Regions from separate parts of the Homo sapiens genome. Here regions 2, 3 and 4 are each linked to region 1. Evidence: fine-mapped expression QTL. A gene starts in region 1. Each other region holds a variant in brackets. All regions are shown on one strand. Distances are between the middles of the regions.

Region 1 (5,000 bases):
ACTTAACAGATACGGAATAAATGGATGAATGGAAAAAGCCCTGGACTGGGAATAGTAAACCTGGTAACCAAACCCAGCTCTGACCCTGACCTGTAAGTAACTACTATCTCTGGCCTTGGTGTACCCCATGTATAGTGGGGATTGTAAACACCTGCCCTGCCCACCTTATGATACTGCTGTGAGACTCAAAAGACATCATTAGCTCTTAGGCACAGGGAGCTTGGAGGTTAAATCCAATTTGTTTAGTTTTCAACAAGGAAGTGGTGCCCCAGGGACAATGATGGAGAGAAATCGAATGTAATGAGCTGTTGCCACCAGCTGAGTGGTCCTGAAATCATGGCATCTGGGTTGCACTTAGAGATTGTCCAGTTCAAAAGGCCAGAAGGAATCTGAACCTCGATGGGAAAAGTGACTTGCTCAGCTCCCCAGCAAGCCAGGGCAGAGCTGGAGGATGGACTGGAGTCTCCTGGTTCCAGGTCCAGGACTTCTTTCCGCTGTGTTGACAGAGCCAGGAGGAGGGGCACCCGGGGAGCAGGGGAGGCAAGGGCTGCTGGATGCCCCATCTCAGTTGAATTCTCCTTGAGGGACCCAGCCCAGGAGCAGAGTAAGAGGGTTTGAGGGTGGAAGGTGGCAGGGCTGGCCAAGCAGTATAGTCCCTGCTGCTGATAACCAATCCCTGAAATCCCGAGGTGGAGGGACTTGAGGGCAAATCACAGACATGGGGGACCTAATGCTGGCCATGTGGCTCAACCAGAAGTGCCCGTCCCTCATAGCTTTGGGGAGATCAGAAGTCAGGGATAGGGTCGGGTGTGGTGGCTCATGCCTGTAATCCCATCACTTTGGGATAAGGAGGCAGGGGGATCACTTGAGCTTAGGAGTTCGAGACCAGCCTGAGCAACATAGCAAAACCCTGTTCTTTACAAAAAAATACAAAAATTAGCCGGGCGTGGTGGTGCACACCTGTAGTCCTGGCTGCTGGGGAGGCTGAGGTGGGAAGATCACTTGAGCCCGGGAGGTCGAGGCTGCAGTGAGCTGACATCATGCTACTGCATTCCAGCCTAGGCAATAGAGTGGGACCCTGTCTCAAAAAAAAAAAAAAAAAAAAGTCAGGGGTGCTGGCCCCATGATAGGTGCAATGGGTGCCTCCAATTCCCTCTGGCTCTGCCTCCCAGCCTCTGTCCAAGCAACAGGCAGATTTTCCATGCCTGGGGACTTGCCCCTGGCTCACTGATGATGATACCATCTTAAGTCTCCTGGAATCCTTAAACCCTTCCTTGGCATTTGTGAGCAAGTATTGAGCCCCTCCCATGTTTTAGGCCCAGTGCTGGGTGCTTTCACCTGCAATTTCTTACAGAGGATGGTATTTCCTAAACTCCATTCATTTGCTACCTCCATGATTTTTGCCATATCACCCAACCCATGAAATACATAAATAAATAGTATTTACTCAATATTTTGACTCACTTTTAAAAAACATAAACTTATCTGAAAAGGGAACCTATGTCACGCCTCTAAATAAACAGTATCAACCAAAAATACAAAAGAAACAAAAATAAATACAAAGACATTCTTGGTTTCTGGCACCAGGCCCCAGTTCTGGCTCCAACCTTACTGAGAAGTCACATGATCTCTCTGGGCCTCAGTTTTCTCCTCTGGAAAATGGAGCTTTTGGAAGTTAATGCATGCACAGTGCCTGGCCCTGAGACTGGCATGGAGTGAGTGGAAGAGAGGTTGCCTGACCTGGCTAAAATTGGTTCTCTGGGCAGACATTTTCCCAAGGGCCACTGAGAAGACCCTCCTGTTAGGAGTCAGTGAGCTCTGTCGCTGGAGGCATTCAAACAGAGCCTGCGGACTTCTCACTGCGAAGTTGCCCAGAGAATTCAGTGCTCAGAGGAAAGGGAGTGGTTATTCCATCAGAGCTGGTTCCCCAGGAGCGGGAGCAGGGCCTGTAGCACCCAGCCTCTGTCCCTGGCTCCCGTCTATCCGGGATTTTAGCGTTTCCTCTGTAGTTTTCAAGCACTGTCTCATATGACTCTCGCACCAGCGAGAGGCCAGGGGAGATGGTGTCTGCCTGTTAAAGAGGGGCAGGCTGGTCCACATAGGTCAAGTGACTTGGCCAAGGTCACCAGAGCAGAGTTTTGAACTTGAGCTGTCTGACTCAACTGCCTGGGAAGTGCCTGCCCCTCCTCTGGCATCCAGGGAGCATGTCCTGGGGCTCTGGCTGGGACATAGCCGGACACCTGCGGGCCCTTTACGTCTCTAAAGAGAGAAAGAGGGAAGGGCCCCTGTCTAGGGGGTGGTTTCCCTCCAGATGCCACCCCTCCGAGGTCCCCTTCTGCTTCTTCTTGCGGTAGCCAGGGAGGCAGCCCACGGGCAGGGAAGCGGGGGTGGGGGTGCAGAGTCAGAGGTGCACGTGGACAGAGACAGAGAGACAGGGACACGTGGGCAGAGACGGATAAAGACAGAGACCCAGAGAAAGCCAGATATGTTGACAGACACAGAGACAGACGCCAGAGAGGAAGGCAGACAAAGAGACGGGTGGAGACAAAGACTCCCACCAAGAGACGCAGAAGGAAGATGCCGACGGTAAAGACAAAACAGGAGACGCGCGCAAGGAGCAGGTCAGAGCCCAGGCTCGCTGAGAGAGGAAGGGCTGGGCTGGGGCAGCCCGGAGGCAGAGAGACCGAGAGTGCGGGGCGGGCGAGGGACGCCAGGGCCGCGTCACCCCAGCCCGTTCCTAGCTCCGCTCCCGGCAGGGGGCGCCCTGGCCTCGTGGCACGACCGGCCCGCGGGGCGCGGGGCTCGGGCCGGGGGCGGGGCCGGGGCCGGGCTGGGGAGGGGTTGGGGCCGGGGGCGGGGGAGGGGGCGGGCTGCCCGGGCCTCACTCGGGCCCCGCGGCCGCCTTTATAAGGCGGCGGGGGTGGTGGCCCGGGCCGCGTTGCGCTCCCGCCACTCCGCGCCCGCTATCCTGGCTCCGTGCTCCCACGCGCTTGTGCCTGGACGGACCCTCGCCAGTGCTCTGCGCAGGTAAGGATTCGACGCTGCCCCGCGCCCTGGTTCCCCAGGGCCCCAGCGGACGTGGTCCATCCCCTTCTGCATCCTCCGCTGGCCCCGTGGTTGAACTTTAATGGCAGGGCCGGGGTCTCCAGCGCCACGCCGCCCACAGCAGCCCATTCGGGACGCCCTGCAATTGGTCCTGCCCCTGTCCTCCCGCGCATCCCAAGCTCCCGGCGCGCGCTCTGGGCGGGACAGGAGATTGGACGTGGCGCCCGCGGAGCCGGCGAACTCAGGGGACCGCGCTCGGGACCGCCCTGCAGTCCCAGGGTCTCCTACCTCCCGAGCCGCTGCCTGGGACCCTGCGCTCTGTCTGGGCACCTGCCCTTGGTGCCCCGTGACTGAGCCCCTCCTGGTGCCTCCTTAGCCGTAGCTCTAGAGACCTGGGCTGCCAACCCCAAGGCCTCGTGGCCTGGCGCCCTCCCAGGCGTCCCACCTGACCCGGTGGGGTCTAAAGCAGTTTGGTTTGGGAGGAGGAGAGGGCAGGAGGCGCTTGGAATGGGGGGCGTGGCGGGAGGAGACAGAGGACACCCGCGTGGGTGTCAAAGTGTGGGCACCCACTGTGGGCACCGCAGCTGTGGGGCAAAGCTCTGGAGCCCGCGAAGCCGAAGGAGCCTGCCGCCCCCTTTAGGCTTTGCGAGGTGGGCCTCCCAGGGCTGCTTCCCTGCCCAGTCTTGGTAAGAAAGGGTTAAACGCAGGTCTCAGCAGAAAGGCAGGAGGCCGAGGAAAGCCTCCCCCACTCCCCATTGTGCCTTATGACTCTTTTTCAACACATAATGGGGTCGAAGGCGGGGCCTTTACAAAGGCCTCTGGGTGGAGGGTGAAATTCCTTGAGATCAAAAGAGGGGGCGATTCTTGGGCCAGGAAGGGCTTTGGGCCCTGGGAAAAAGTCAGACCGCTCAGGTGGGCCCAGCTGCCCAGGGAGGCAGGGGTTGGGTCCCAGCCTCAGTGTAGATACTGCAACTGTTTTTTGAAGGCCTACCGTGCGTAGAGGGACCTGCTCTGACATCTCATGTACATCATTTCATTTTACAAATGGGGAAACTGAGGCTTAGACAATTTAAGTAAGTGGTGGGACCAGGGTTTGAATCCAGACTCCAAACTCTGCAGCCCTAGCGTCCTGCTCCCACTGTGTTGCCTAAGAGATAGGGGGCTGAGCCTTGGTTTTGTCTTCCGGCTCCTCCTGGGCTCAGCCCGCTCTTCCTCCACTCTCCAGTCTTGCTCTTTCCAACTGTTTAGTCCTCCCCACCTGTGGGTGTCCCCACGCTGTCCTGCCCCAGCCATCCCACTCCCTGGCCCCATGCATCTTGTTCCTGTGTCACCTTTTTCTTTCTTTAACTGAATACCTGTGAATTCCCTCAGAAGAGGCCCCTGGACACAGCTTCTCAACATCCCAACTGGTGAAGACTAGGCTGAGTGATGATCCCGGTCCATGTGCCCATTTGTAAAAAGGGGTGTATTCCCCTTTCGGGACTATTGTGAGGAATAAAACTGAACTGAGGCCAGAACAAGATGCTATCTTCATTCAGCAAATACTTAAGCATCCGCCGTGTGCCAAGCTCTGTTCTAGGTGCCGGGAATGCCACAGTAAATCAGCCAAAAGCCCTCTTCTGGATTGGATGTTTGCATAACAAAATTCTTTCAGGCTTTGAAACTGTCAGAATTCACAGTGTAGACTTGAAATCAAGCTATTCATAAGGAAGGAGATTAAGACGCAATCACCTGTAAAATGGATTGGCCAACCTTTGGCCCTCACTTTAGCAAAGGCAGCCTTGCTGTGGGACCTGGGATCAGTTCTGTTCCCTCTCTGTGCCTCGGCCTCCTCCCATAAGCTGTGGAGATCAATAGTGCCTACCAGTGGTGAGGTCTAGATATGATGAATGCTTGCGAAGGGTTTAAGCTGGTACCTGTGCTTAAGAAAATCCTGGCTATCCTCAGCTCTCTTC
Region 2 (5,000 bases), 32 kb after region 1:
TCCTCCAGTGACGTAGGCTCTCACCAGGATGGTCCCCATTTGACGGGTGAGGTGGTGTGCCCAAGGTCAATGGGGGCCTGCTGAGCTGCATGCCCTTGGGTGGGACCTCACCTCCATAGGCCCCAGTTTCCTGTCTGGGGCTCTCGGCGTCAGCCCTGCCCTACTATGTCCCAAGGTCGCCGCGGAGATCAAACGCAAAAGCCACCGGAGCCTTCTGTGGCCGGCTGGAGCGTCCTCTGGGAATGCGAGGAACGCTGTTATCTGGAGCCCAGCTGCCCTGAGCACTGTCTCTGGGAACACCCGCGTCCTTCCTCCTCTGATCTGAGCCCTCTGCGCCCGCCACCCAGGGATTCGGCTTGTGCTGGCCGCTGCCCAGCAAGCTACAAGTTCATTGTCCCTTTTCCCACAGCCCGGCGCCTCCTCAGCCTCCTCTCACAGGGCCTGCGTGGGGCCATCTGCACAATGGACACATCCTCTGCTAGGGGGAGGGGAGTGGGGAGAGCCGGGATTGGCCAATGCCCTGTCTTGAGGATGAGTTGAAGGAGGGGATTATGGGTGGGGGTGGCCAGGGTGCGCCCACCTGGCCGGGGGCAGAGCCAGGTCTTGAATGCCAGGTCTTGAATCTGGGATCCTCCCCTCCCTGCCACTGCAAGCCCCAAGTGAGTTGCACTGCAGGGCTGGCTACAAGATACCGTGCAAAGATCAGAAGAGACTTGGACCCTAGATGTGACATTCTCTTGCTGTGTGACCTCTGGCAAGTCACCTCACCTCTCCTGTAAAGTTATGATTATAGGAAGCCCTCCCACTGGGAACCGTGGTGCAGATACAATGAAATAACATTTGGGAACAGAGTGTAGTGAGTGTGAATCAAATAGCAGCTGCACGCAATCCCTTCATCTGCAAAAGTATAATGTGTCTGTGTAATGTACATATTGCAGAGAGGGCAAATGGTGGTTTGTTTCCAGTCTTGCCTCCTGTTTGAGGAGTTTATGCTTAGTCCTGGGAGACAGAAACATCCCCAAGTAAGGCTGAATTCTGGCTCGCTCACTTACTGGCTGTGTGACCTTGGGCATGCTCCTTAATCTCTCTGTGCTTCTGTTTTGTCATCTGTAAAATGGGGATAATAATAGTGCTTACCTTGAAGGTTGTTGTGGGGATCAAGTGAGTTAATATAGGTAAAGTGTTTAGAACAATGCCTGGCACATAATAAGGTCTATGAAAAGGTTTGTTATTATTAATCTTATGAATACGATGACAAAATATGTAAAATAGGATTTTTCTAAAATAGTCTCAGTTTGAAATATTTTCATCAGTTGCCGCAAATCACTAATGTACGGAAGTCCAAGACATTGGCATCCAAGCTGCGCCTTGAACACTGCCTTGCCTTTCCAGTAATTGCCCCCCAAATCCTCAGCTGGTTAGTGGGGAGACCTATCCCTGCCCCTGATGTGCTGTGTGACACTGGGGAGGTTGTGTACCCTCTCTGTGTCTTCCTTTTCTTTTTCCTTTTTTTTTTTTTTTTGAGATGGAGTCTCACTCTGTCACCCAGGCTGGAGTGCAGTGGCACGATCACAGCTCATTGCAAGCTCCACCTCCCGAGTTCACACCATTCTCCTGCCTCAGCCTCCCGAGTAGCTGGGACTACAGGTGCCCGCCACCCAGCCCAGCTAATTTTTTGTATATTTTTAGTAGAGACAGGGTTTCACCGTGTTAGTCAGGATGGTCTCGATCTCCTGACCTCGTGATCTGCCCACCTCTGCCTCCCAAAGTGCTGGGATTACAGGCTTGAGCCACCGCGCCCGGCCTGTGCCTTCCTTTTCTTGTTGTTTGTGAGAGCAAGGATGGGCCGGCCATGTCTCCTAGTACCAGGGAGGCTCCCCCTGCAGAGGGCTGAGGGAAGTGCTGGAGGAGGTGGTTGGCGAACACCGCAGATGTAGTGCGTGCGCCACCCTCCCCCACCGCTTTCTGTACTTGGCATCTAGGCTTGGCACAGAGTGAGGTGGCCTGGGGCAGAACATGTCCTTTCCATGGCATGGCAGAAGGCTGTGTGCCTGCAAAGCAGCCATGCTCCGCCCCCGACCCCTGCCTGGGCACTGCAGGCCCCAGGCATGGTGTCTCTGGGCCCTGCTATCTCCCTCCCCTGCGATCTCCCTACTGCGCCTCCCTGCTGCTTCTCTCCTGCCACTAGTCCTCTGGCTTCAGTCCTCTGCCCACAGAGTTGGTTTGGGGCATCATGACCGTCCTGGAGCCTCAGGGACCCCCAGAGAAGCTTTGGCTTCTCTGAACCCAGACCCTCAGGGTTTCTGATTCCAGCTCTGCTGTGTGGCCTTGAGTAAGTGACAGTCAGAGCCTCACCCTCCTCACCTGTAAAATGGAGCTGGCAATGGGGCATGTAGTGAGATGAGGCATGCAGAGGGCCTGCTCTCCACCAGGCCGTGCTTGGGGAGCAGAGCCCTTTGTGGTGGGTCCAGGCTGCCCCTCTGTCCTGAATGCAAGCCGCCTGCTCGTGCCTTTCTCCCTGAACCCCAAACTCCACACATTCCTGCCTCCTTGCCTTTAAACACTCAGGTCCTGTTGGGAGTGTCCTCTCTCTCTCTCTGCTCATCTCAACCCCATCATCCTTCCAGCCTGGTGCTCGACCCACCCCCACGGACACTTCTGGCCCATACCCTGTCCTAGACTTTCTCTCTCTCCCCTTCAAGATGGAAAGGAAGTGTCAGGCTACCTGGCAGGTTACTCCTTTCTTCCCAAGTGAGTGTGTGAGGGAGAGAGAGATCTGGTTCTCTTTGGAGATGGGAGCCCTTTGACTGTAAGAATAGGACCTCTGCCGCTTAAGAACAGGCCCTT[T/C]GAAGGGAAAGTACTCAGCAGGCAGGTGAGCTTCTGGGTTCTAGAGTCTCAGAGCTGGAAGGACTGTCTGCAGCCATCCAGGTGAACAGGTCTCTGGGAAATCCCAAAGCATATGGTGGCTTGATCGAGTGGGCGGGGAAGGGTCCATCCGTTCTCTGCTCCAGCCCCTCATCTGCCCCACTTGCCCATCTCTGCCCCGCAGTCCATCCACCTCATTTGCTCCCCCTCCCCATAACCCTAGCTCCTGACTGACATTCACTCAGCACCTACCACATCCCAGCCTCCGTTTTACACCCTTGTGTGTATGAAGGCATCCTTACAACAACGCAGTGGCTTCTATTAGGTGTGGAGGGGTGAGGTCACCTGCTCTGAGCTGCCCAGCTGGTGAGGGGCAGAGGCAGGATCAGAATCCAGGCAGCCTGGCTCCAGCATCCATCTTCACTGCTGCTGAGCTGTCTCTTCAGCCACCCACCCTCTGACCCCATCATCCTTCCACCTAGCGACATTCCCTGGCCACCCGGCCTGTGCCGGCCTCTGCCAGCCACGGGGCTGCTGCCATCAGCAGAGCAGGATTCCAGCTCCCTAGGAGCTCACCACGGTGAGAGGGTGACAACCTATGATTCTCTAAGGCTCTGATTAATTTCACCAAGGGCTTCATGGCACTGGGTGCTGGGAGCTTGGGGAGGAGCCGAAACTGCTGTCTGGGCTGGGGTAGGGTAGGGAGAGGGCAGGGGGAGGGATTCATTGGTTGGACAGCATGGGACATTCTAGTCTGGGAAGCACAGAGTGCAGAGGTGTTGAGGCTGGGAGCGCTCAGGGGACAGCTGGGTTCTCATCAAAGCCCTAAAGATGCAGTGGCTTGGCACCAGGCCTCTGGGGTACTTCCACGTCTGTTTCCTGCCAGGATGGGGTGCTGTCAATGGCTAGAAGTCTGAGCCTTACTATAATCCCCAGCACTGGCCCACTGCCCTCTAGGGAAGTCCTTCCTTGGATCTGACCTGCAGCCCACTCTGAAACCACCACACATTCCTGCGCAAGCACTTCATCCAGCTCTTCATGACAGCCATAAATAACTTCCTCCAGTAATGAATACAGTCCTGGCCAGCAAGGCTTGCCAGAGATGCTGGGCTTGGCGGAGAGAGGAATTCCATGTCCCTTCCCTATGACTCTGCAGCTGAAATGTTACTGGGCTGGTCTTCAGCAGGGCTCCCTCCCTAGGCAGCTATGCAGGTGCCCCCCAGCCCCTGCCTCATTCCTCATGCCCACCAGGGACACAAGGGCAACTCAGCACTCCTCTCTAGCCACAGCTCCTTGGAAGAGCCCAGAAGGCCCAGCTGACAGGCTAGGGGATGCTGGCTCCAAGCTGACTCAGTTCCCTATGTGTGCCTCTGGTGGGGAGCAGCTGAGAGATGCAGGGTCTGCTTATAGTGGTTCCTCTCACCGGGCAAGGCTTTCCTCCTCTTTAGGCCTCAGTCTTCCCATTTGGACAATGGGATGATCTCTAAGACAAAGTTTCCCAAATGAATCTGCTCAGAAAATGACTTGTTAAAAATATAGCTTCCAGCCAGGCGCAGTGGCTCACGCCTGTAATCCCGGTGCTTTGGGAGGCCGAGGCGGGCGGATCACGTGAGGCCAGGAGTTCAAGATCAGCCTGGCCAACATGGTGAAACCCTGTCTCTACTAAAAACAAAAATTAGCCGGGCATGGTGGTGGGCCTGCAATCCCAGCTACTAGGGAGGCTAAGGCATGAGAATCGCTTGAACTCTGAAGGCGGAGGTTGCAGTGAGCCGAGATTGCGCTACTGCACTCCAGCTTGGGTGACAGAGCAAGACTCCATCCCCCCAATCCCCCCACCAAAAAAATACAGCTTCCAGCTGGGCACAGCGGCTTATACCTGTAATCCAAGCATTTTGGGAGGCTGAGGCAGGAGGATCACTTGAACCCAGGAGTTCGAGACTAGCCTGGGCAGCATAGTGAGACCCCACCTCTATTTTAAAAATGTAAACATTAACCAAATGTGGTAATGTGTGCCTGTAGTCCCAGCTACTTGGGAGGCTGAGGCAGGAGGATCGCTTAAGGCTGCAGTGAACTATGATCGTGCCACTGCACTCCAGCCTGGGCGACAGAGTAAGACCCTGTCTCAAAACAAAAAA
Region 3 (5,257 bases), 45 kb after region 1:
TGGTGGTTTCTGTGTTGTGAACACACACAATGTATTATCCAGCCTGCCGTAGATGGAGGCAGTTTTGAAGCCATTATAAACAGGGCTGATGTGCACATTCTGCTGGAGAGAAACGGGTCCCAGGGTACAGGTAGGATGATCAGCTTCGGTAGATCCTGCCGGTTTTCCCATGCGCTGTGCCTGTCTGCACTCCACCAACGGCGAGCGGACCTTCCGGTAGTTAAACATCTTCACGAACTCTTGGACTTTCCTGCACACACAGAGAAGATAATTTTGGATGGCTCTTCCCTTCCCCCCACAACCTTCCTTAGGGCACTGGCTTTCAACTGATGTAAATATTTACTATGCCAAGCACTAGGAGGGCAGAGACAAACAAGACAAAGTCCTCACACTTAGAAACTCCCGGTGTGGCAGCTGAGATGGCCCAGGAAAGAACTATATTACCTTCAAAAAGAGAGGTACATGCGATGTTTGAGGTGGCATGAAGCTCAGTGGTGTTATATTGGAATGAGTGAGTGACCATCCTGGAGCCTTCCTGAAAGAGGTGACTTCATTTTTAAGTGATTTTAAATAATAGTTTAATGAATTAGTATTTCGTATTCAGTTAATAACATTTTTCTGATTTTAGGATTTGCTATAGAAATATTTGGAAACCGTAAAGTAGAACAAAAAAAAAAATGTAGGAATCATCTGAAATTCCAAATTCTACCACTCACAGTTAAGTGTTGTTAGATGTTAGATGTGGGATATTGCCTTTTAATTTCCACTCTGCGCCGCTACCCCCAGCCCCTACCCCAGAGCCGTCACTTCTGGCACTGGAGCGCAGCTTGCGTGGTTTTTTTTTTTTTTTTTTTTTTTTTTGAGACAGAGTCTCGCTGTCGCCCAGGCTGGAGTGCAGTGGCGCGATCTCGGCTCACTGCAAGCTCCGCCTCCCGGGTTCACGCCATTCTCCTGCCTCAGCCTCCTGAGTAGCTGGGACTACAGGCGCCCGCTACCTCTCCCGGCTAATTTTTTGTATTTTTAGTAGAGACGGGGTTTCACTGTGTTAGCCAGGATGGTCTCGATCTCCTGACTTCGTGATCCGCCCGCCTCGGCCTCCCAAAGTGCTGGGATTACAGGCGTGAGCCACCGCGCCCGGCCATTTGCGTGTTTTTAAGGTTGAATCAAGATCCTTCTTCTGGTGGTAGTGGTTTCTTTTTCTCCCTTCCCTTCCCTTCCCTTTCCTCCCCTTCCCTTTCCTCCCTCCCCTCCCCTCCCCTCCCTCCTTCCTTTTCTCCTTTTCTTTTTCTCTATTTTTAAATTAAAAAAAAAAATCTTGGATGGGCGCGGCAGCTCACACCTGTAATCCCAGCACTTTGGGAGGCCAAGGTGGGCAGATCACCTGAGGTCGGGAGTTCGAGACCAGCCTGACCAACATGGACCCCATCTCTACTAAAAATACAAAATTGGCCGGGCATGGTGGCGCAAGCCTGTAATCCCAGCCACTCGGGAGGCTGAGGCAGGAAAATTGCTTGAACCCGGGGGGCGGAGGTTGCAGTGAGCCGAGGTTGTGCCATTGCACTCCAGCCTGGGCAACAAGAACAAAACTCCGTCTCAAAAAAAAAAAAAAGAAAAAGAAAAAATCTTTTTCCTTTGAGCTGGAGCTGCAAAGAGAAGAATTTTTAAAAAGAAAAGAAACTTTTAAAAAATTAAAATACAAAAATTTTTCTTAGAGACAGGGTCTCGCTGTGTTGCCCAGGCTGGTCTCCAACTCCAGGCCTGAAGCGAACTTCCTCCAGCCTCAGCTTCCCAAGTAGCTGGGATTACAGGCATGTTACCACCATGCCTGGCTTTTTTTCTTTAAACAACTTTTAAAAAATGTTTTATTTTGTTTTTACTTAACATATAATAATTGGACTAGAGTGGTGTCTTATCTGTCACAACACTTTTCTAACGGTAGAGTGTGTATTACTGCTGTTTCCCACAACAAATGGTGTCATATCTTGGTTTTGGCTGAAGCAATAACATTTCCCAGTGAAACTCTTGCCACTTAAAATTCTTTGTCTTGTAACTCATGTGCAACAGGGTTAGTACATTTCTCAGCTGCCAGTGGGGTTGTTCTTTGTGATTTAACAGGAAGACCACAGTGTAAAAACATTCTTATGCCATTAATACATGCTTGTTTTAGGCTACTTGGAAAATTCAAAAAAATAAAGAGGAAATAATCATTCATAGTCCTACCACCCAGAGAAAACCACAGTTAATGTTTTGGTGTATTTCCTTCCAGTTTTTTTTTCCACCTAAACTCTTCAATTACATCCGACTTTAAATATATATATATTTTTTAAAAATTGTAAAGATAATACTGTATCTCAGCACAAAAGAAAATTTTGGAAATGCAGAAAAGACAATGGAAAAGAAAAATCAGTTGTCTGTGATGTCACCACCCAGAAATGGCCACACTTACCAGCCAGTTTTTTCACATATGTGACTCCTACCATTTTTATATCTCTTACCATAAACGACAAGCTCTAGAAGAGAATGTAGCAAATGTAGGGGTCCTGAAAGAAGGGGTGCACTCTGTTTTGTCCCTGATGTTCCTGGGACACAGGTAATTAAAAGGCTGAAGACCGAGTGCTGTAGAACAGGGCTTCTCAAGGTGTGGTCCGCAAAGCAGCAAAGCAGCAGCTTCTCCTGGGAGCTTATTAGAA[A/G]TACAATCGGAGCCTCACCAGTGGGCCGGGAATCTGTTGTAACAAGCCCTTGGGGGATTCAGATGCTTGCTCTCCTTACAGTTTGAGAAACACTGCACCAAAAGATTGGACTCTGGGAGGTAGGGGGCTTCAGATGAATTGAAAGTGGAAATTCACTTAGGAAATGGGACGGAACTGCTTTGCAGCATGGAACTCATTGACACTGACACAGCTGTTTGTGTGGTTAAGCTTCCTGAGACAGGGACCAGCTGGGTTTGGCATCCCAATGTTGAGCCCCATGCCTGGTCTGTAATAGGTGCTCACCGAATACTTGTTGAATGAATCAAGGAATGAATAAGTGAGTGAAAAAGGATCTCTAGAGCTGTGCCCCACATGCCTCTTTTTCTCTTTTTTTAATTTCTAGGATTGGAACATCAGTTAACATCTGACCACTGCCAGCCCACCCCCTCCCACCCACGTCGATTGCATCTCTGGGCTCCAGGGATAAAGCAGGTCTTGGGGTGCACCATGATTTCACCATTCTTAGTACTGGCCATTGGCACCTGCCTTACTAACTCCTTAGTGCCAGGTATGCTTGGGGACACAGGTGGAGGCATAAAAAGGTGGTGCAGATGGGGTATGATGAGGGCAGTGTCTATGTTTTAAGGTCCCAGAACCATCCAAAGTATTTAAGAGCTGAAAACAGTGTTCAGAGCAGGAAACCTCAGCCCTGCTACTTGCATGTGTTAGTTGGATAGGTCACTCTTTTCCCATATATATATATATACACACATACACATATATGAAATATATATATACAAGGAAAATATATATATACAAGGAAATATATATTTTCCACATATATATTTTTCCATATATATATTTCATATATATATTTTTCCATATATATATTTCATATATATTATATATATTCTTTCTTAATTTTTTTTTTTTTGAGACAGGGTTTCGCTCTGTTGCCCAAGCTAGAGTGCAGTGGCGCCATCTTGGCTCACTGCAAGCTCTGCCTCCTGGGTTCACGCCATTCTCCTGCCTCAGCCTCCCAAGTAGCTGGGACTACAGGTGCCCGCCACCGCGCCAGGCTAATTTTTTGTATTTTTAGTAGAGATGGGGTTTCACCGTGTTAGCCAGGATGGTCTCGATCTCCTGACCTCATGATCCGCCTGCCTCGGCCTCCCAAAGTGCTGGGATTACAGGCGTGAGCCACCGCGCCTGGCCTGTCTGTCTGTCTGTCTGTCTGTCTGTCTTTCTTTCTTTCTTTCTTTCTTTCTTTCTTTCTTTCTTTCTTTCTTTCTTTCTTTCTCTCTTTCTTTCTTTTTCTTTCTTTCTTTCTTTCTCTTTTCTTTCTTTCTTTCTTTCTTTTCTTTTTCTTTCCTTTCTTTCCTTTCTTTTCTCTCGCATCCGAGTGAAGAGACCACCAAACAGGCTTTGAGTGAGCAACAAGGCTGTTTATTTCACCTGGGTGCAGGCGGGCTAAGTCCAAAAAGAGAGTCAGCCAAGGGAGATATGGGTGGGGCCGTTTTATAAGATAGGGGTAGGTAAAGGAAAAATTACAGTCAAAGGGGGGTTCTCTGGCGGGCAGGAGTGGGGGTCACAAGGTGCTCAGTGGGGGAGCTTTTTGAGCCAGGATGAGCCAGGAGAAGGAATTTCACAAGGTAATGTCGTCAGTTAAGGCAAGGACCGGCCATTTTCACTTCTTTTGTGGTGGAATGTCATCAGTTAAGGTAGGAACAGACCATTTAAATTTCACTTCTTTTGTGATTCTTCAGTTACTTCAGGCCGTCTGGATGTATATGTGCAGGTCACAGGGGATATGATGGCTTAGCTTGGGCTCAGACGCCTGACACTTTCTTTTTGAGACAGAGACAGACTCTCACTCTGTTTGCCCAGGATGGAGTGCAGTGACGTGATCTCAGCTCACTGCAACCTTCGCCACCCAGGTTCAAGTGATCCTCCTGCCTCAGCCTCCTGAGTAGCTGGGATTACAGGCGTGCGCCGCAACACCCGGCTAATTTTTTGTATTCTTATTAGAGACGGGGTTTCATCATGTTGGCCAGGCTGATCTCGAACTCCTGACCTCAAGTGATCCACCCGCCTTGGCCTCCCAAAGTGCTGGGATTACAGGTGTGAGCCACTGTGCCCAGCCTTTTTCTTGTCATTTGTAGTTCTCACTAGTGAACTCATCTTCAACAGGAGTTTTTTGTTTTTCTTTTTTTTGAGACAGTGTCTCTCTCTGTCGCCCAGGCTGGAGTGCAGTGGCGCAATCTTGGCTCACTGCAAGCTCCATCTCCCGGGTTCACGCCATTCTCCTGCCTCAGCCTCCCAAGTAGCTGGGACTACAGGTGCCCGCCACCACGCGCAGCTAATTTTTTTGTACTTTTAGTAGAGACGGGGTTTCACCATGTTAGCCAGGATGGTCTCGATCTCCTGACCTCAGGTGATCCGCCTGCCTTGGCCTCCTAAAGTGCTGGGATTACAGGCATGAGCCACCGCACCCGGCCGAGTTTTTTGTTTTTCTGTTGGAGATTCACGCGGAAGTGTTTCCACAGCATGGCATGGTGTTTTCAGGA
Region 4 (5,218 bases), 54 kb after region 1:
TGTTTAGAGAAAGAGAAAGACCCCAAGTACTGGCGAGACCAAGCGCAAGAGACACTGAAATATGCCCTGGAGCTTCAGAAGCTCAACACCAACGTGGCTAAGAATGTCATCATGTTCCTGGGAGATGGTGAGGCCCAGGGGCCTGTGGGAGGGGTGGAACAGGACACCTAGCTAGGAGCCCCGGGAGCCAGGCTGAGTTGAAGGGGGCTGTGTTGAAGGGGCTAGGGCTCTGGAGGAAGGGTGTTTAAAAGGATGAGGGGCCAGGCTGTGGATTCAAGAGGCCTGCTCTGCCAGACAGCCCCCTGAGGATCTGGGGGTGAAGGGAGAGAGGGGCTGCTCACTGACATTTACAGAGCCATGCCCAGTGCCAACTGCCCGAGCCTGCCTTGGTACCGAACTAGAGAGCTTCTGGGTACCCAAGCAGGCTGATTGGAGAGGCAGGAGCACGAGAGACTGAGGCCCCCACTCCCCACTGCAGGGATGGGTGTCTCCACAGTGACGGCTGCCCGCATCCTCAAGGGTCAGCTCCACCACAACCCTGGGGAGGAGACCAGGCTGGAGATGGACAAGTTCCCCTTCGTGGCCCTCTCCAAGGTGAGCCCCATCCCCAAGCCCAGTTCAGGTCTGTATATCCAGTATCCAGGTCGAGCATCTGAACATGACAGCAGCCAGAGGTCCCCTGACCCCCTGAGCCCCCTCCATGCCCAAGCCCACTCCCCACCTGGAGCAGCCACTGCCCTGACTTCTGACACCATAGCATCACTGTACCTGCTTGCGGGTGTGTGTTTAGAGAGAGGGTCTTGCTCTGTTGCCCAGGCTGCAGTGCAGTGGTGCAGTCATAGCTCACTGCAGCCTCCAACTCCTGGGCTCAAGCCATCCTCCCACGTTAGCCTCCCGAGTAGCTGGGACTACAGGTGTGTACCACCACATATGGATAATTAGAGACCCCCCCAAGGTCTCTAATTCTTGGGCTTAAGCGATCCTACAGCCTTGGCCTCCCAGTCTTGGGATTACAGGCGTGAGCCACCATGCACGGCCTATATATGCCTTTTTTTTTTTTTTTTTTTTGAGACAGTCTTACTCTGTCTTCCAGGCTGGAGTACAGTAGCATGACATCAGCTCACTGCAACCTCTGCCTCCCGAGTTCAAGTGATTCTTCTGCCTCAGCCTCCCAAGTAGCTGGGATTACAGGCATGCGCCACCATGCCCAGCTAATTTTTTTATTTTTAGTAGAGACAAGGTTTCACCCTGTTGGCCAGGCTGGTCTCGAACTCCTGACCCCAGGTGATCTGCCCACCTTGGCCTCCCAAAGTGCTAGGATTACAGGCATGAGCCACCGTGCCTGGCCTGTATACACTTTTGCATGAAGTTCCAGTTCATTCATTCTTTCCCGAGGCAGTTCGTGAAGTTAATTAGACTATAGGCATACCTCAGCTATACTTCGGGTTTGGTTCCAGGCCACTGTAATAAAGCAAATATTGCAATGAAGCAAGTCACACATTTTTTGGTTTCCCAGTGCATATAAAAGTTATGTTTGCACCCTACAGTAGTCTTTTAAGTGTGGGATAGCATTATGTCTAAAAAAATGTATATACCTTAATTTAAAAATATGCTATTGCTAAAAAACGCTAATGAAGTGAGCTCATGTTTTTGGAAAAAATGATGCTGATAGACTTGCTTGACACAGGGTTGCCACAGATCTTCAATTTGTAACAAACACAGTGTCTGTGGAGTACACTAAAATGAGGTGTGCCTGTACTGACCTAGGTTGTTCAAGGCAGTGTGCACTGCCGGGTAGCTATTGCTATTGGTGGTGGTGATAGTGGTGTTATGTAATAACCTCCAGACCCTGGGTCAGGCCCCAGGCTCACTTCTGGGGGAGTAGTGGGGACTATGGTGCCTTCTGTGCCTTCAAGGTGCTCTCAGGCTGGTGGGGAAGGGAGACAGGCAAATAGTTTTGGGGTCTCTGCTAAACATCCGGATGTAGGGCAACCCTGTGATGGTGGCCGCAGGGCAGGTGGCAGAGAAGTCAGCGCTGGTCTTGGCCCCACCCTTCCCTTCCCCAGTCCCCTTCCCCCTCACTTTCACTACCCTATCCCCAGACCCCCCACTCCTTCAAGAAGGCCCCTCCCTCTCCCTTCTCCAGGACTCCCCTGCTCCCCAACCCCTTGCTGGCTCCTGCAGCCCCAGGCCCGGAGAGAGGCCTCCGCTGACCCCACCTGAGCCCC[A/G]ATCTTCCGCCGGACACTTCTCTGTACTTTGGAGAGCTAAGGTCCTGCCCCAGTGCTGCCAGGGTGCAGGGAATGATGGCAGGAAGCAGGCAGCTAGGTAGTCCTGTGGCTCTGGGGGGCTTCAGTGGGCAGTGGGCCTGGTCAAGGCTATGGGGTCCTCTCTGGTCCCTCACGCCCCAGTCCCCATGGTGTGAGTGTAGGCGGGGTGGGTGCCACTGGGGCGAAGGCCTGGCCATCTCCTGACCCTCCTCTCCCACCTGCAGACGTACAACACCAATGCCCAGGTCCCTGACAGTGCCGGCACCGCCACCGCCTACCTGTGTGGGGTGAAGGCCAATGAGGGCACCGTGGGGGTAAGCGCAGCCACTGAGCGTTCCCGGTGCAACACCACCCAGGGGAACGAGGTCACCTCCATCCTGCGCTGGGCCAAGGACGCTGGTGAGTCGGGGGAGCAGTGGGGAGCAGGGCCAGCTTCGTGGCCTGTCCAGGCCTCAGTCTTTCTGACTGTGTCATGGGAAGGGGCTAGAAAAGGCTTCTCTGTGGGGCTCCCAGCTCTGATATGCTGGGAGTCTGTAATATCCATGGGATTCCTTCCGTGACAGGGGAAGCTGAGGGTTTGGGGTTCACTCAGTGGTGGGTTCTGGTCCCAGTTCATTTCTCTGAGTCGATTCTTCATTTGACTATAAAACGGGTGGGAACGTAGCCCCCTCATAGGGTTGGTGTGAGGAGGGAGAAGTCAGCCCAGGGCTAGCCTGTGGGGTGCAGTCCATGGCCACGCCCCTTCCCTCCTCAGAATTGGGAGGCCCAGCCTGTGCCCCCAGAAGCTTTAGTCAGGGGCCAAGGCCAAAACACAGGTGACAAGGCCAACATACAGGTGACAGAGCCACAGTCCACTTGAGATCCCTCAGGGGTCCTGTGGGCGCCTTGATGAAGGGGAGGACTCCAGCCCAGGTGCTCACATCTCAAGGGCCTTCGGGGTGAGGGGAGAGGGTTCCAGAGGCAGTGTTCTGGCTGCTCGGCTACTTGGAAGCCACTGCCAGACACCTGCTGCTGTGGATGGGGAGACTGAGACCCGGGCAATCCTCAGAACTGAAGCGGGGGCCTGTCTTTAGCGGGGAGGGGGAAGGGAGGGAGGAGGCCTCTGGGACACCCCGATCTGTGGATAAAGCCAAACCCGCCCCTCCTGCACCCCAGGGAAATCTGTGGGCATTGTGACCACCACGAGAGTGAACCATGCCACCCCCAGCGCCGCCTACGCCCACTCGGCTGACCGGGACTGGTACTCAGACAACGAGATGCCCCCTGAGGCCTTGAGCCAGGGCTGTAAGGACATCGCCTACCAGCTCATGCATAACATCAGGGACATTGACGTGAGTGCTCGGGGGCAGCCGGGCAGGGACGGGGTGAGGCGGGGCCTCTGGTGGGCAGGAGGCCTCAGGCCCAGGCTGGCCCGGAGAAAGCAGCCTGGCCTGGCTCCCCACACACCTGGGAGGCTCCCAGCCCATTAGGGGATTTGCGGTTGGGCAGGCAGGCACTGTGGGATTTCTCTGCGGTGGGGCTGCGGGGTGAACCCTCATGTGACCGCCACCACACCCCAAGAACCAGGCATCCAGGGATGATTCCATAAATTGAAACCTGGTGCTGTGCCCTCCTCTGCCCCCCACTACACGGGAGGTGGTGATGGCCAAGTGTCGTCTGCCTGCCCTGCGTATTCACATGGTCACAGATGGGTACATATCTGTACACTCAACCACCAGCATGCCCGGCAAAGAGCTGGTGTGTACAGTGGTTGGCTAGTGCCAGCTCTCGTGTTTAAACTTCCGAGTTCCAGACCTTGCCCTGCGTGTTGCTAGCTGTGTGACCTTGGGTCAGTTACTTAACCTCTCTGAGGCTTCCCTTTCACAACTCCTTTGTGAACTGTACCTGCCTCATAAGCTTATGCCAAGAACTGATTAAGATAATCCCTGTGGAGCTCAGCACAGGACCCGAGGCCTAGCGAGTGCCCAGAAGGTGGTGGCACTTACGCAGGAGCCACATGTCCTTGCCCTGAAACACACTTCAACAAACTGAGCTGACTCATGGAGACAGAAGTCATCCATGTGACGCTTACTCTCTGTTCTTAAGTGAGAATGCCCGGCTCGTTCCTTTTCAGGCTTTTATTGCCTACTGTGGGGGACTGCTGAGGCGATCTGGGGACTTCTGCCCCTTGAGCCTGGAATGGGGATTCGGTGAGGGGCAGAGAAAGCCCCCCTGCCCAGCTACACCTCACCTCTTTCTCTCCACCACCAGACAAACTCACCTGCCTTCAGCCCTCCATGCACTGCCCCCCACAAATTTCTGGGGGCTACTTGGCCCCTCCACAGTAGAGACCCACGTCTGCCCTTTTCCCAGCATGGTGGATTAAGTACCCGCTTTCAGGACACACAGTGCTGTTGGCCCCTTTCACTGAACAGACATCTGAGGCCAAGCCACTCATCCTGGCTTGCCTTCACCCGACATGTGGCCTGGGGCGAGTTCCTTCCCCTCCCTATGCCTCAGTTTCCCCACCTGTGCAGCAGAAACAGAGAGCCACACTTGCTTGCTCCCAGGGCCGTGGGAGGCCGTGATGAGGTCATGGATGTGAGAACATTTGTTGTACAGGCACAGGGTATAATTACATGGGGACTGCTCCTCAGAGGGGTTTGTCAGGGACAGCCTGAGCAGGGGACAGGAACTTGAAGGAAATTCGAGGGGAGGGAAGATGTTTCAGGTGAGGGGGTGGGAGATGAGGAGGGGGGGCCGCAGGGGCCACGTCAAGGGGCACAAGCCAGGGAGTGAGTGAGGACGGAGGACCTGTGTGAGGATCCCTTTCTTTCCTCCTCTTCCTTTCTCTCCCAGCCCCACCTGCCTCTCCGTCACCACCCCCCCAAAAGCCTCCCAGTCCCCAGACTGTACATGAAACAAAAATCCTGGTGTCCACCCTGAAAATAAATACTGTTGCTTAAAAAAAA

What was found.
Region 2: its variant is fine-mapped to the expression of ALPL in whole blood (TOPMed, PIP 0.99).
Region 3: its variant is fine-mapped to the expression of ALPL in fibroblasts (GTEx, PIP above 0.99).
Region 4: its variant is fine-mapped to the expression of ALPL in whole blood (TOPMed, PIP above 0.99).

Annotation. Positions count from the first base shown.
Region 1 is chr1:21,506,491-21,511,490 of GRCh38, forward strand. It overlaps ALPL (alkaline phosphatase, biomineralization associated), which reads left to right and starts at 2,933. Exons shown (of 12, transcript NM_000478.6): 1 at 2,933-3,027. RefSeq lists a silencer at 2,741-2,840 and enhancers at 2,876-3,446, 3,447-4,016.
Region 2 is chr1:21,538,151-21,543,150 of GRCh38, forward strand. The region is part of intron 1 of ALPL (alkaline phosphatase, biomineralization associated); the gene reads left to right. Among named protein-coding and RNA genes, the nearest start is that of ALPL, 31 kb to the left of the region's middle. RefSeq lists an enhancer at 1-342. The variant T/C (reference allele first, on the strand shown) is at 2,848.
Region 3 is chr1:21,550,885-21,556,141 of GRCh38, forward strand. ALPL (alkaline phosphatase, biomineralization associated) reads left to right here. Exons shown (of 12, transcript NM_000478.6): 2 at 3,094-3,258. The coding sequence starts at 3,198. Among named protein-coding and RNA genes, the nearest start is that of LINC02596, 33 kb to the right of the region's middle. The variant A/G (reference allele first, on the strand shown) is at 2,691.
Region 4 is chr1:21,560,619-21,565,836 of GRCh38, forward strand. It overlaps ALPL (alkaline phosphatase, biomineralization associated), which reads left to right. Exons shown (of 12, transcript NM_000478.6): 3 at 8-127; 4 at 479-594; 5 at 2,492-2,666; 6 at 3,423-3,598. Among named protein-coding and RNA genes, the nearest start is that of LINC02596, 23 kb to the right of the region's middle. The variant A/G (reference allele first, on the strand shown) is at 2,229.